Homo sapiens: one gene and its partners. The protein of the gene in region 4 purifies or fractionates together with the protein of the main gene of each other region. This does not show direct contact. Each region holds a gene or a part of one and is shown on either strand. Other genes may lie near its edges.

Region 1 (3,500 bases), on a different chromosome or scaffold from region 4:
CTGAGGGTGGTGTTCTCTTGGGAGCTGTGCACTTCCAGATGGCCCCATCTAATCTCCACGCGCCAGGCACTGCTATGGCATGACGCTGATAACCCGGGGAGGTTTGTCTGTAATCTCCACTTTACATATGTCCAGAGAGGTGAAGCCACTTGCCTGAGGGCACACAGCTAGGAAGGGGCAGAGTTGCAGTTGAGCCCAGGCCTTGGCTCCAGAGTGAGTGCTCACAGGTGACCTGCTGACTGGCTCTCTGAGATGGTAACTGCAGAACGGCCACCTGTGGGACTCCACAGCAGAGAAGCCATCAGGCCACAGGGAGAGCCGGTCACTGGGGCCTGCGCAGTCAGGCAGCCTCTCTGAACTGGTGAAAGGCAAGACGACGTAGTAGCTAGGACAGTCACAGGGAAGAGCATTTCAGGCAGAGGGAAGGGCATGTGTGAAGGCCCTGCGGTGGGAAAGCAGGTGTCTCATTCAGAGAAGGGCTCACTCAAGGGTCGGGGGCTCTAGTTGGGGGTGAGTGGGAGGAGATAGGGCAGAGCTGCCACGGCCAGTGAGAGTTGTGTTCTAGTCTGGGGGTGCCTCTCTTTACCTGTGGTGTAGCCTCAGGTCAGTGGCTGAATTCTGGTCAGTTTCAGTTTCCTTGCCCCTGCCTGGGGGCTGCTATGAGGCTGGAGTATGTGGAGGACACCCCAGGACACCCCGTGCTGAGAGCCGGGACAGGCGGGCTTATCGTGGGTTGCCAGTGGCCGCCGAGAGCCTCTGTTTGTTGTGGTGATGGTTGCCACAACGGCTGCACCTGGGCAGCCCTGGGCTGCCTGGCCATCTGGGCCCAGCTCTGACGTCTGCAGCAGCCTGAGGCCTGTTTCTAGGCTGTCTCCATGACGGCCTCACCCACTCCCTCTGACAGCTGGGTGGCTTCCCCATGGAGCCTGTGGCCCTCCTGATGCAGGCTTGGTGTCCCCAACAGGCCGGTGGATGCAGAGGCCAGTCCATATACCACCCAGGCCTGCGAGGAGCGTGGTCCCCACCCATCCAGCCCATATGTGCAAGTGCCCTTGACAGGTGGGGAAACTGAGGCTTGGTGAAGGGGGGGCCACATGATACAACATTCCCAAATCCCAAGGCATGAGGTGGGTGGCAGGCTGGGGCCAGAGGGACCAAGAGCAGAGAGAGTGCAGGGAGGGTGTGGCGTGGACCCCACAGGGAAAGGGTGGGACTCAAGGGGCTGGGGGCAAGGTCAAGGCCCAGGGTCTCTGTGCAGAGCTTTAATTTTTAACAGAAAATATTTTATATTCTGGTTACGAAAAGCCTGACATCAGGAATAAAAGCTACCTATAATTCTCATTACTTAGGGCAGTTTTTTTTTTCACCTCTGCAGAGAGGCTGGTCATATCCATGGTGACCATTTATGGGCCACAACAGGTCCCCATCTGCGCAGTGAACCCTGTGCTGAGCACCTTGCAGACGTGATCTTGCTTCGTCCTGCAGCACTGTGCGGGGCAGGTGGGTGGCATTTCTGCCTCGAGCTGTTTTGTACATGAGGAACCCAAGGTGCAGAGGAGGGCACCATGCCAGGGTCGCAGAGCTGGAGTTTACCACGGCTGCGCCACTCCAAGCCCAGAGCCTCAGAAGTTCAGAGACTTTGGCCCAGAGGCAGGATAGAAGTGGCCTCAGAAGCTGCTGGCCCTGTGTGCCATGGTTTTTCCTGTTAGAATGTGCTGAGCCTCTGCATCTCCAGACTCTGTTGCCGTTTCTTGTTGAGCACGAGACTTGGGCCCCTCCTTCCGCCTCAGGGAGGGCTCCCTGTGGCAGGGGTGCTGTGAGCCATGGCCTGGCCTGTTGGGGTCTGCGAGTCAATAAACTCAGGAGTGACTCCTGGCCAGACCCCTGACTTGCTGTGCAGCCTGGGGCAAGTGGCTTCACCTCTCTGAGCCTGTTCCCCAAGTAAAGTGAGGTTGGGAGCCCCTCCCTGTAGGGCTGTGGGAGTATCTGGAGTCACAGATGAGAAGGGCCCTGCCTGTGGCCGGTGCTGTGGCTGTGACAGACTCGCAGTGAGACCCATGCGGTCCCTGACAGCCAGGGTGTTGCTGCATCTTAAAATGAGATAAAAACGCTGCGCACAGGAGTAGTGACTAGGCGATTGATTCATGGGGTGAGCAGTTAGCAGGCAGGCACCCAGTGCATGTGGCGGCAGCTGCTGCTGCTGCTGCTGCTGCTGCTTCTGTCTGTGGACGCTGTTGTTTCCTGAAGCCTCTGGGGCCTGGCAGCGGGGTCCCCGGGGTGGCTTTGGTGGAAAGGCTGCAGGTATCTGCTTGCCTGGCTCCTGCACTCTGCCCACCTGCCCCAGGATGGACCCTGGGACCCCTGTCCCTGCCAAGGCTATTCTGTTTCCTGTTGTTCTGGCCTTGTCTTCCCAGTAGCGGTAACCACCCTTCGCCCTCCATCTGGGCTGGGTTGGCTGCTGGGCCCCGGTGCGTGGCTCTGAGATGGGGCCACAAGTCTGTGTTGCACCGTGGCCAAGGCTGGATCTGAACCTGGCTTGGAGGCGGCTTCAGAGACTGGGGTCTTCTTGGCAGGCGGCAGCAGGGCCATGGGCAGTTTCTAAGCCCCAGTACCAGCAGCCAGGGTGAGCCAGCAGCAGGGAGTGGCGGGTGGTGGGTGAGGGCCAAGATGTGGCAGGATCATGCTTGGGAAATGATGAGGCAGAAGCTCCCACAAGGGCAGGCATGTGGCCAGCATGTCTGTACTGGGTGGTCTCCGGGAGCCGTGTCACTCCCAGCCCTGCTGCCTGATGGTGCCAGAGCACCAGGTGACCCTGGCATCTCTGATCCTTGCTTCTCCTGCCTGTGGAATGGCGGCTATGCCTTATTCAAAGGGCGGCCCTGACTACAGGGAGCTCTCTCTGCATGCCAGCCCCACTGTGCCTGGAGCCCCAGAAATGCTGACCCTCCGTTAGTACCAGCTGAGTGCTGTGCACCTGGCCAGGCTCTTGTAGCCAGCCTGAGAGGTGTGGACACTGGGGCCTCTCGCCTGTCCCTAGGGGTGGAGTGAGGAAGGTACTGCCCCGGGACTCTGGCCTGCCTGGTGCAGGGGAGGGGAGAGAGCCAGCGCTTTTCAGGGGAGGGAGAGAAACGGGCATCGGGTGTCGGCCTCCAGGGTGAGCAGGGCCCAGCAGAGCTAGCCTGGAGGGCAGCCCGGGCTGGAGTCCCCGCCTGCTCCACCGCCTGTTGCCCTTTCTGGGGGCCTGGCCTTCCTCATCTTGGATGCAGTATGAGCCCCATCCTGCTACCTGCAGCTAATGAAGCCCCTGTACAGTGGCTGCTGCAGGTGCTGGCTGGACCCCCGCTGGGCCCCTTCTCACCCCACATCCCATTGACTAGTCAGGCAGGGCAGTGAGGACACCTCACAGATGGGGAAACTGAGGCCCAGGGAGGTACTCAAGATGTGCCCAGTGGGCAGGGCTGAGATAAGGCCCTGGAGTCCAGCCTCCAGGCCTGGGTCTG
Region 2 (3,500 bases), on a different chromosome or scaffold from region 4:
TTTTTATGTCTAACGCAGCTTGTCCCTGCTACTGTATCCTGACTCCATTGGCTAGAGTTGGACCGTACAATCTAAGCTGAACCCGGTTGGCTAACTTGAAAAGTGCAGGAATGTGATTACACTGCTGGGAAGGCAGGAAGATCAGTTTTGCCGGGAGAAGCCATTGTGATGGGAGGGGTAATTCACAGAGTGGGTAGCAGATGTGGAATGTGGGCTCTATAGATAACGACTGGCGGGAAGGTTGTTTACCAGCGCAGGGAGAACACAGAGAGTAAGGAAGTCTGGCCTTGAAAGCAGGGAGCAAAGAACAAGGAAACTTAAGCAAGCTGAACCTTTGAAGAAGAATTTCTTACTGTATTTAACAATCCCCCTGTTAAATATTTTACAGTATTTTTTCTTTAAACCCTTTTAACATAATTTGGCTCTGTTATTCTACTTGGGTCTTCTAAAAGAAAAAGCTCACTGGAACGAGGAGGAGGAGGATTGAGGGAGGTTTTGGGGAGAGCTGTTTCAATGAGCTTTTGTATTAATCCTAGGGCACAGGGTATGACACAGCATCCTACAAGAATAAGCAACCCTATTCTGATGGCAAGAGACATGAGGATTGAGGACATAAATCCCTTCCATTTGCCAAAGAATTTCCCATTAAATTTGTGAAGGGGTCGTTTAGTCCAGAATTTTTGGCTAGCTCATTTGATAAGGCAGTAAGACCTTGTAGTGCTTTTGGTGTGATCCCACCTGGAGTAGTATTATTAGGGATAAAAGTATAGCATCGGGTTCCGATAATGACACAATCTCCACCCTCTTTCGCTGGTATCATGTCTAATGCTATTTTATTTTCCCAGGCCATTTGACTGGTGGGTCTTAATTGTTCAGCTGTCCCTTTAAGAGCATCTCTAGTATAATTAACAAATCATAGGCTGGGCACAGTGGCTGATGCCTGTAATCCCAGCACTTTGGGAGGCCGAGGCAGGCAGATAACCTGAGGTCGGGAGTTTGAGACCAGCCTGACCATCATGGAGAAACCCTGTCTCTACTAAAAATACAAAATTAGCCAGGCGTGGTGGCACATGTTTATAATCCCAGCTACTCGGGAGGCCGAGGCAGAAGAATTGCTTGGACCCAGGAGGCAGAAGTTGTGGTGAGCCGAGATCATGCCATTGCATTCCAGCCTGGGCAACAAGAGCAAAACTCCGTCAAAAAAAAAAAAATCATCATTGGTTGTAATAAATGTAGTTTATCTAATTCACATTTTTATTTATAGTTAACCACCAGAAGAACGTGGATTCAAATCCTGCAGTTGTCTGATTTTGGGCCTTAAATTCATCTGGCACTCCTCGTTGGACTCCAGTGGAATCTATATAAATGTGGGAGTCAACAGACCCATGAGGGGCCTCTCTTGTTTTACAGTGTTTGGTTTCTGTCTTTTCTGGTTGATGAAATGCCAGGGTGAAAGGGATAGCCAATGGAATTAGAGTGCATGTTCTGCTCCAGTTACTCGGCAGTGTCCAGTAATGGTCCACCACAATACCACCATACATCCGCTCGAGGATGACTAAGGGCAGACTGATGGGTAAGCTCTTGGAAGGACTTAAGCTCACTGCATCCCATTAAGGCTCCAAGGAACACCAAGTTTTCTCCCTGTTGTGAGAGACACAAAGTAAAATTGGCATTGGGAAACGGAAGCTGATGGCCCTCGGGGGCTGACCCTCAGGGTGTTGAGCTTCAGGGAACAGCAGAGAAAGAGCTTGACATGATTTGTCACCCCAGGCTGTGTGATCTTGGAAGAGAACTACCATACAGCTTATGCCCGGTCAGTTAGAAGACCATCTGAGTGGAAAGGGGACAATCTGGGCCTCTGGTCTACCGTGAGCACAAGCATAACATTCATATTTGTTTAAAGTGCAGATGGAATATTTAATCCATTTTAGCCAAGCATTTGCATCTTGACATCCTGTCTCTAGGGCTATAGTCTGCTTTAAATTTTTTACCTTTACAACCGTTACTTTAGTTGGGTTGTTTTGGAGATGGGAGGAGGACGCTGAGCTCGCTATACTTGGAGAGAGTGTTAGATTCCACTCGTTTCCCAGACTCTGGGTGTGGATTTTTTTTTAATTATCATTGTTAACCAGTGGTTGAAGATTTTTATGGGATTTTGTTTTGTAACATTTGCTCCTAATCCATACTGTTTGAATATAGTGGGTTCTTGGGCCATTGTTTGGGGGTTAGCTATAATTAGCAATGAGGGGTTACACTGCAGTGGCTTACAGTTTGGTGGGGTGGGACCATGAATTAGTTGGAGTTTCTGTTTTAGTCCCCATAACTTATTTGAAAAAGGGGGCCTGGCTGTCCACCCTCCATACTGAGTGGTTTCCAAACATCTGTCCAGTCACCACAGGGACTTTTTAAGGTTCTATACTTATACTTGGTTGACTTTTTATGGTATGGACATAGGTACTTATCTACATGAGACAGCTTCCTTTGAGCTTGCTTGTCTCCACACAGGATGACTGAACAAGCATCAAACTGAAGGATTAAAGGATGGTTAGCCCAAGTTACATTGATGACAAGATGACCTTCTGTTGGAAAGAAAAGAAAAAATAAACAAGTGATTATTAAGCCCTTTTTAGAGTTAATTTGGTTGGGGTGAGCCCTGGAGTGACGGTTTATGATCCTGGAGGTGGCAGCGCCTTTTTGACGCGGGTGTGATCAGTCCATCCTCATTCTGCTGTTCGGACTGCAGTCTTAGTATTTAGGAGCACCAAGTAGGGTCCTTCCCAAGCTGGTTTGAGTTTGCCTTCCTTCCACCCTTTTATGAGGACATGGTCTCCAGGCTGACGCTAATGTGCTGGAAACTCCAGCGGTGGCGCCTGTGCTAGGAGACCTTTAGTCTTAAGGGAAGAGAAAGTAGAGTATGGACCAAGTATATAATTTTTGAGGAACTGATCTTTTATTTTGAATGTAGGAATGTTAGCAGTGGAGTATAAATAGGGCAATCCATAGAGCATCTCATAAGGGGAAAGGCCAGTATCTCTCTGAGGAGCAGTTCGGATTCTTAACAAGGCAATAGGAAGACATTTAGTCCATGGCAATCAAGTTTCTAGAACTAATTTAGTTAAGTGGCTTTTTAGAGTCTGATTCATCCTTTCTACTCTTCTTGAGGAGGAGAGATGCCAAGGGATATGGTTTTTCCATTTTATGTCTAGTACCTGGGCTAACTTTTTAATGACATATGCAGTGAAATGGGTTCCATTGTCTGAATCAGTGCTTTGTATTAGTCCAAATCTGGGTACAATGTTTTCAATTAATGCCTTAACTACGTTACTGGTGGTTGCATTTGAGTGTGGGATAGTCTCTACCCAGTAGGTAAAGTGGTCTATTATTACTAATAAGTATTTTAAATGACCAATTGGGGGCATTTCAGTATAATTAATTGAACACTTGGAAATGGTCTTAGCCCTGAATCTCTTTCTCCAAGGGGCGGTTTTCTTAGAATCTGC
Region 3 (4,027 bases), on a different chromosome or scaffold from region 4:
TAAAGGGCGTCTGTGACTCCTAGATCTCATTATGCCTACTACCATAACCTACCCCCAATTCCTAATATTCTCCTACCCTAGAGGGGGGGAAATTGTCAGAAATTTGGCTGCAACACTAGCAACACTACTCAGTACTTGAAATGCATTTTTGCATTTTTTTCATTCAACAAATATTTCTGGAACAACTCTTATATGCCAGGCACTATTTTAGGAGTCAGGGATATATAATGGTAAACAAGACAGGCAAAACAAAGCAAAGCAACAACAACCATCACCAGATAAGTAGACAGATGAAAGAATTTCAAGTTTTAGTAAGTAAAATAAAACAAGCAAGGGTCTGAAATGGCTAGATAAGGTGGTCAAGAAAGGCTTCATTGAGAAGGTAGCATTTAAGCAGGAGTCAGCTAGAAATATTGTGAAATTCCAGTTACAGTTCTATTTGTTCTGGGTTGGTTAAATAAAGCTTTTTCCCCCAAGGTGGAAACTACCAAGAAAGACTAATTACTAGTAGTGGTGGTGCTCTCTGGAAGAGAGACACCTCCTGTTTCTGCCTCATTACTGTCAACCCTTCACTTCCAGGCACTTTTTGCAAAGCCCTTTGCCAGTCAGGGAAGGCGAGAGGCTGGGCATGGGGCTTGGACATTTGACAACAGTGAGACATTATTGTCCCCAGACTCACTAGCCCAAGGGTAAAGCTGAAGAGGCTTGGGCATGCCCCAGAAAGGCCCCTGATGAAGCTTGGAAAAAGCTGTTCTCTGAGTATTTCTAAGTAAGTTTATCTGTGTGTGTGGTTACTAAAAGTAGTAAGTATTGCTGTCTCTAGCTGCCTTAGAGCAGGGCTTGACACAGTACACAGCAATATTAGTTCCCTCCTTTTCTCACCTCCCCCATTGTGGAGATAAACTCAATCACAAAAGGTGATCCTCAGTCTACTCACTTCCCTGACTTATGGATGCCTGGACCCATTGCCAGTGTGAGAGTCACAGCTGGACGTCAGCAGTGTAGCCCAGTTACTGCTTGAAAATTGCTGAAGGGGGTTGGGGGGCAGCTGCCGGGAAAAAGGAGTCTTGGATTCAGATTTCTGTCCAGACCCTGACCTTATTTGCAGTGATGTAATCAGCCAATATTGGCTTAGTCCTGGGAGACAGCACATTCCCAGTAGAGTTGGAGGTGGGGGTGGTGCTGCTGCCAACTCTATATAGGGAGTTCAACTGGTCACCCAGAGCTGTCCTGTGGCCTCTGCAGCTCAGCATGGCTAGGGTACTGGGAGCACCCGTTGCACTGGGGTTGTGGAGCCTATGCTGGTCTCTGGCCATTGCCACCCCTCTTCCTCCGTGAGTAAAGCTGGGACTAGAAGCGAAGGATTGAGTTCTGGGCTAGGGTAAGGTAGGGCCAGTTTTTAGGCCTCGGTCAAATTTGGGGTCAGGGGCTATGGGAAAGGGATCGGTCCCAATGGATCAAGATATCTATTTTGTTCTCCCTAGGACTAGTGCCCATGGGAATGTTGCTGAAGGCGAGACCAAGCCAGACCCAGACGTGACTGGTGAGGCCCTGACTCCCTAAGTCTGTCTTATCTGTCTGGTTGTGTCTCTGCATTTTATCACCTTCTGGTTTTTTTTTTTTTTTTTTTTTTTTTTTTTTTTTTTTACTTTGCCATCTCCCTACCTCCACCCCAGAACGCTGCTCAGATGGCTGGAGCTTTGATGCTACCACCCTGGATGACAATGGAACCATGCTGTTTTTTAAAGGTAGGAGGGACTGAGGTTAGGGCGTTTAGGACCTTAGACTTACTCTCCTTCACAAAGGGTGTCCCTGTCTGTGGGAGGTCTTAGGAATTATCTGATGGTATCACTGACAGCTTCTCTCAAGCTATCTCAGTAGGTCAAAGGTTTCTCACTGGGCCCCTCAGTGAGTGTGGGTTTTTTCAGGGGAGTTTGTGTGGAAGAGTCACAAATGGGACCGGGAGTTAATCTCAGAGAGATGGAAGAATTTCCCCAGCCCTGTGGATGCTGCATTCCGTCAAGGTCACAACAGTGTCTTTCTGATCAAGGTACTGCTGGGCCAAAATCAGGGCCAGGCTGGAAAGGGCTGGAATCGACACTGGGGACCCTTCCCCCAAATGGCCTTGGCATGGAGCCCATAGCAATAGGTAGCAGATTTCTTTCCCATGTGCCCTCCTTTCCTGTAAAAGCTTGGGCTAAGGGAGTGTGCATGCGTGTGGGCCTGGCAGGTGCACCATCCAGTGGCTGTTCTTCAGTCCTAGTCTTAGTTCTACACCGCTCTGCTGTACCTCACACTGCTGGCCATCCTTTTTTTCTCTGGCAATTGCTTCCCTTGCCTTCCATGACCCTGTATCAAGTCCTCTTCATAGGGCAAGGCAAGTTGTTCCCAACACAATGGCACCTGGCTAGAAGAGCATGTGGAGCATGAAATCCAGTCTGCTGTGCTCACCAAGTCCCATGTGACCCAGGCTGTGTCTGCTCAGAGGAAGGGGTGCCTTTTCCTACCTTGCCAAAGGTGCTGTGTGGTTGGGGAAGTCCTGACTGTCGGCTTTGTTTTCCCTCCTGCCTCTTTTCTCTCTCTTCTCAAATGTCTCATTCTATCTCAACCAGTTCCCTAATGTTCCTTGGGGATCCATCCTAGCCTTTCCATATACCTTCCCTCAGTGATCTCAACCATCACCTTGGCTCTGAGGAATATCTATGCTGTGGACACTGGATCTAGATCTACTTTCTGAGCTCCAGACATCTCTTTCCAATTGTATGTTCTACAGGCACCTAAAATTCAGCATCCCCCAAACTAAGCTTTGCATCTTCTTTACAAACCAACCTTTCCTCCTGTGTTTCCTGTTTCAGTAAATGACCCCAAAATGTGCCTGATTACTACAAACCAAGTGCACACAGGGTCTCATGATCTGGGCCTTGGTTATCTTCTCAGGTTTATCTCCTCCCCTGCCACATTCACTGTGTGCCAGCCATACGAATCTACATGAGGTTGGAGCACACTGCTTCCTCATGTTTGGGCTCTGCATGCTGCTCCCTCTGCTGGTAACACCCTTTCCTCACTTGTCAACCTGGAAAATTCCTGCTGATTTTTCAGCTCTTGGGCCCAATGCTTCCTCTTTGGTGTGAAACCTTCCACAACTTCTCTAGGCAGACTTAGGCACTCTGTCTATATTCTCAGTGCACTCTTTACACTACACCTTGGTAGTTGCATGGCTAGGATTGCAGGAGTCCTTTCTGCTTTTGTACAGTGAACTTCCTGAAGTGAAAGACAGAGTCTTGTTATCCTCAGTGCCTCTCACAATGCCTGGCATATAGTAGTTATTCAGTGACTGTTTCTTGGATGAATGAATGAATGAATAAATAAATGAAGAAATGAATGAAGAAATAACGTATGGGTGATTGCAGGATGAACAGTTGTGGATATGTTTGTCAACACTGATAGTGTTGCAGATAAATGTGCCACAGGAGTGTCTGGGTACAGAGCTAGAGGCATGTGTGTTATAGTAATAGTGACTGGATTTGCACAAACTGAGAGTGTGTAATGTGCAAAAGGACAGCACATTGTTGTCCACAGATGGACTGAGAATGTGTAGGGCCACAGGAGGATATCGTATAAGCACAGTAGATAAAAAATGTGTGTAAATGCAGAGTGGCAGTATCTGGGGATGCACAGTCAAAAAGAGAGTACTTTTGAATGCAGGGGGACAAAGTCTGGGTATACCCTCCTGAAAAGAAGGAGAAAGGATACCCAAAGTTGCTCCAAGATGAATTTCCTGGAATCCCATCCCCACTGGATGCAGCTGTGGAATGTCACCGTGGAGAATGTCAAGCTGAAGGCGTCCTCTTCTTCCAAGGTCAGTCCAGGCTGGAATCCAAGAACCTGGAGTAGTGGTGGGTTGGTAGTGATGCCAGTAGTGATGGTGATAGTGGTAGTGATGGTGGTGGTGGAGCCACTATGTGGCTTTTTAAGGAAGGGAAATAGAGAAGCCACGTATGGTCTAGAGGTCACGTGAGGGAAGGAG
Region 4 (4,161 bases):
TATCCAAGACCTACTTTCCTGTTCTAATTTTGCAGTGCAACACAGATATCTGTTTGAAGAAGACAATCTTTTACGGTCTACACAAAAGCTTTCCCATTCAACAAAACCTTCAGGTAATTCCAAGTAAAATATTACTATAAGATAACTTGATCTCAGCCTTTCGGCTTGCCAACAACCTTAGCTTTAAGGAGGAAAGGAAAGAAGGAAGTAGGAAATAGTATAGAGGAAAAGAGAAGAAAGAATTTAAGTAAAATGAGAACTAAAACATAAACTAAAAGAAACTCAAGTAGTGTTCCTCAGTAATCCACAGTAAGGGCCACTTCCAGTGTTGGAAGCATATACAGTGCTTTCCTGGTATTTACTGGATCTGGCTGCATGGAAAAAGTGGAACATGTCTTTCATTATGGTTTCCTCCATATGCTGATTCATTCCTATTATTATGCGTCTGGGAAGTCTGGTGGATTCTAGAGGTGAACACTTTCCATCTGCTTTCTCAGGAAGCCCTTTGGAAGAAAAACACGATCAATGCAAATGTGAAAACCTTATAATGTTCCAGAACCTTGCAAACGAAGAAGTAAGAAAATTAACACAGCGCTATATCCTTTTCTTGCATTATGCTTCTGTATGGAATGCAAAGAATATTATCAAAACTTCACACACTCTATGTAGGTTTTATCAACTGAAGTAAATCCCACGAAGTCACAAAGAACAGTGATCTCCAGGAAAGGCTTTTTGCTTTAAAAAGCAGCCTCACAGGTGTTTGAGAGGCAAGGGCAAGCCAAGCTTATTAGCAGCAGTCAAGCACTTAGTTGCCATCGGCTGTTCTCGGGGGCTTAGCAATAAGGCCTGTCAGTCAGCATACAAAGTAAGGAAAAAAGAGACACTGGCCTAACTCCGTCTCTGCTAGGAAGGTGTGTAGGACATGATGAGGTCTGAAGTGCATCAAAGGTACGGTAAGTATAGACAAAGAATGTTGTAGAATGAAGAGGTTTCAAACTCAGTACTCCAAACTTTTCCTTTAGCCCCAAGGAACACCACAGCCACATATAGATTCAGTGTGTTTAGTTTCTGGAGGACAGGAGTGGTTTTTTCTTTTTTTTCCCTTGGCAGCAGAGATCTTCTCTATCGGCACTCTAAAAAATGAAACACTCCACCAAGGGAACAGCAGGATCCAATGATTCATTTAAACAATATTAAATAAAAGGAATGCTTGGGGATAATAAAGAAAAGAGGATTCGGTGCTTTTACATATTGAACACCCTGCCAAGTGCTCTAAACTTAAAATTACAGTAAGCGTACTAAAGCTGGCTGATATCTCAAGTGCATCAACTAGTCTATAGGGAAATGGCTTAATTCTGAACTATCTCTGTGCCAATGGGCTTATGTAATAAGGAACAACAGCATAGGGCAATTCCATTTCTGAAAGCTGGAAATACGCTCCCTTAAGTAAAATGAAATAATCTTTCTGAGTGGTTAATTGACGAATATGGGCTCTCATTCTGCCCTCAAGAGGGCAGATAGAGGGTACTGAGGAGCTTACAGGGAAGACCAATACCTATTCTAATGCCCTTTTCTTCTCGCTTGCCTGTCCCACCCCAAAGTTCTACTCACAAGAGACTAAAGAAGACATATTTTTACATAGGTCAGAATTCCTCAAAACCGTGGCCTTATGTAGCATCATGGTGAAAACTCCGTATCGCCCTTTGCTTCTGACTTCATATCTTACTTTCCAAGGCCGAATTCTTTCATTGTCTTCTCTTCACCAGATTCCCAACATTATCAATTCTGGCTCCTAGAAGTGTGCTATGGCAAACTAATTTGCAAGCATTAAGGGTGGAAGTGGAATCACAATTAAAAAAAAAAAAAAAAAGACTGCAGCTGGGTGCTGTGGCTCACACCTGTAATCCTAGCACTTTGGGAGGCCGAGGTGGCCTTGCTTGAGCTTAGGAGTTCGAGATCAGCCTGGGCAACATACTGAGGCCTTGTCTCTTAAAAAATAATAAATAAAATAAGGCCGGGCACGGTGGCTCACGTCTGTAATCCCAGCACTTTGGGAGGCCGAGGCAGGCAGATCACCTGAGGTGGGGAGTTCGAGACCAGCCTGGCCAACATGGAGAAACCCCACCTCTACTAAAAATACAAAATTAGCTGGGCGTGGTGGCGCATGCCTGTAATCCCAGCTACTCGGGAGGCTGAGGCAGGAGAATCGCTTGAACCCAGGAGGCGGAGGTTGCAGTGAGCCAAGATCGCGCCATTGCACTCCAACCTGGGCAACAAGAGCGAAACTCTGTCTCAAAAAAAGAGAAAAAAAACAAAAATAAATAAAATTAAAATTAAAAAGACAAATTCACACTGAGCCATCTGGCTTTGCTGATGTTAAAAAAAAAAAAACCCAAAATATTTGTCTTGACAGAATATGTTAAATGAGTTCTACAAATTTACAAGTCAGGGTTTTAACATACTTGACAGAAATGGGAAAAAAAACCAAAACCTTTTAGATTTCAGAAGCCAAAATTTTACGTGGATAAATCAAGTTATATTTAAATGTAAATAAAAATAGACAATTCTTCATCTTCCTTAATTTGAGATTTACTAGAAGAAATGACACAGAGAATGGAAGCCCTGGAAAATCGCCTGAGATACAGATGAAGATTAGAAATCGCGACACATTTGTAGTCATTGTATCACGGATTACAATGAACGCAGTGCAGAGCCCCAAAGCTCAGGCTATTGTTAAATCAATAATGTTGTGAAGTAAAACAATCAGTACTGAGAAACCTGGTTTGCCACAGAACAAAGACAAGAAGTATACACTAACTTGTATAAATTTATCTAGGAAAAAAATCCTTCAGAATTCTAAGATGAATTTACCAGGTGAGAATGAATAAGCTATGCAAGGTATTTTGTAATATACTGTGGACACAACTTGCTTCTGCCTCATCCTGCCTTAGTGTGCAATCTCATTTGACTATACGATAAAGTTTGCACAGTCTTACTTCTGTAGAACACTGGCCATAGGAAATGCTGTTTTTTTGTACTGGACTTTACCTTGATATATGTATATGGATGTATGCATAAAATCATAGGACATATGTACTTGTGGAACAAGTTGGATTTTTTATACAATATTAAAATTCACCACTTCAGAGAATGGTATTCAGTGCAAAAATTCTTAGTTTAACTTTAAATGGAAGATATGTATGTATGAGAAATGGCCAACATGCCTATGAAAAAAATGCTGAATCTCATCAGTAATCAGGAAAATGCAGGTTAAAACAATACCATTTTTCACCCATCAGCTTAGCAAAAATGAGTATATTTTTTAACAAGTGTTGGTAAGGATGTGGAAATGTGAGGTTCTTGTAGTAAGAATGCAAATGGCACTCTTTGTAGAGTAAGTCTGTTGACATCTCATAAAACTGAAAATGCACACAACCCTGTAAATCTAGCAACTGCACTCAGTTGATTTCAGCCCATACATACAAAGAGACCTGCATAAGAATGTTACTAGGCTTTGTAAAAGCAAAAAATAAGGAACAACTTAAACATCATCAGAAGGGGAACTGATAAACTCTGGTGTAATCCATACCACAGAAATACAACACCGCATGTACAGGAATGTGCTACATCTATACAAATAAATGGTCAAACTCAAAACAAAGATGACTTTAAAAAGAATGACAAAATGTTTAGCATACCATTCCTGAAAATTAAAAAAACAAAATAAAAAATGTCACGGTGAAACCCCGTCTCTACTAAAAATACAAAAAATTAGCCGGGTGTGGTAGTGGGTGCCTGTAGTCCCAGTTACTCAGGAGGTTGAGGCAGGAGAATGGCATGAACCCGGGAGGCGGAGCTTGCAGTGAGCCAAGATCGGGCCACTGCACTCCAGCCTGGGGACAGAGCGAGACTCCGTCTCAAAAAAAAAAATGAAAAGAAAAACCTAGATGGGTACCCCACTACACACCGAGGCTGTTTGTTATATACCCCATTGCTCCTAGACTACAAACCTGTACATCATGTTACTGAATACGGTAGACAACTGTAAAACAATGGTAAGTGTTGTATCTAAACACAGAAAAGGAATTTTTCAGCCTTATTATAATCTTATGGGATCACTGTTGTATATGCAGTCCATCACTGACCAAACGTCATTCTGAG

The links. Proteins that work in one complex are often made in the same cells at the same time.
Region 1: the proteins of MATN2 (region 4) and MAP2K3 purify together in Homo sapiens (affinity purification with mass spectrometry, with the first as the bait; one large-scale study listed by BioGRID). This does not show direct contact.
Region 2: the proteins of MATN2 (region 4) and HPR purify together in Homo sapiens (affinity purification with mass spectrometry; one large-scale study listed by BioGRID and IntAct). This does not show direct contact.
Region 3: the proteins of MATN2 (region 4) and HPX purify together in Homo sapiens (affinity purification with mass spectrometry; one large-scale study listed by BioGRID and IntAct). This does not show direct contact.

Annotation. Positions count from the first base shown.
Region 1 is NC_000017.11:21,294,711-21,298,210, forward strand, and holds part of MAP2K3 (dual specificity mitogen-activated protein kinase kinase 3), read left to right. Parts: intron 1-964; exon of another isoform or gene 965-1,059; intron 1,060-1,375; exon of another isoform or gene 1,376-1,500; intron 1,501-3,500. UniProt on the Homo sapiens protein: Dual specificity kinase. Is activated by cytokines and environmental stress in vivo. Catalyzes the concomitant phosphorylation of a threonine and a tyrosine residue in the MAP kinase p38.
Region 2 is NC_000016.10:72,069,726-72,073,225, reverse strand, and holds part of HPR (haptoglobin-related protein isoform 1 precursor), read right to left. Parts: intron 1-3,500. UniProt on the Homo sapiens protein: Primate-specific plasma protein associated with apolipoprotein L-I (apoL-I)-containing high-density lipoprotein (HDL).
Region 3 is NC_000011.10:6,438,188-6,442,214, reverse strand, and holds the start of HPX (hemopexin precursor), read left to right. Parts: upstream 1-1,227; 5' UTR 1,228-1,251; coding exon 1,252-1,334; intron 1,335-1,484; coding exon 1,485-1,543; intron 1,544-1,676; coding exon 1,677-1,748; intron 1,749-1,928; coding exon 1,929-2,050; intron 2,051-3,705; coding exon 3,706-3,859; intron 3,860-4,027. UniProt on the Homo sapiens protein: Binds heme and transports it to the liver for breakdown and iron recovery, after which the free hemopexin returns to the circulation.
Region 4 is NC_000008.11:98,033,064-98,037,224, forward strand, and holds the end of MATN2 (matrilin-2 isoform a precursor), read left to right. Parts: coding exon 1-113; intron 114-497; coding exon 498-596; intron 597-2,593; coding exon 2,594-2,649; 3' UTR 2,650-3,661; downstream 3,662-4,161.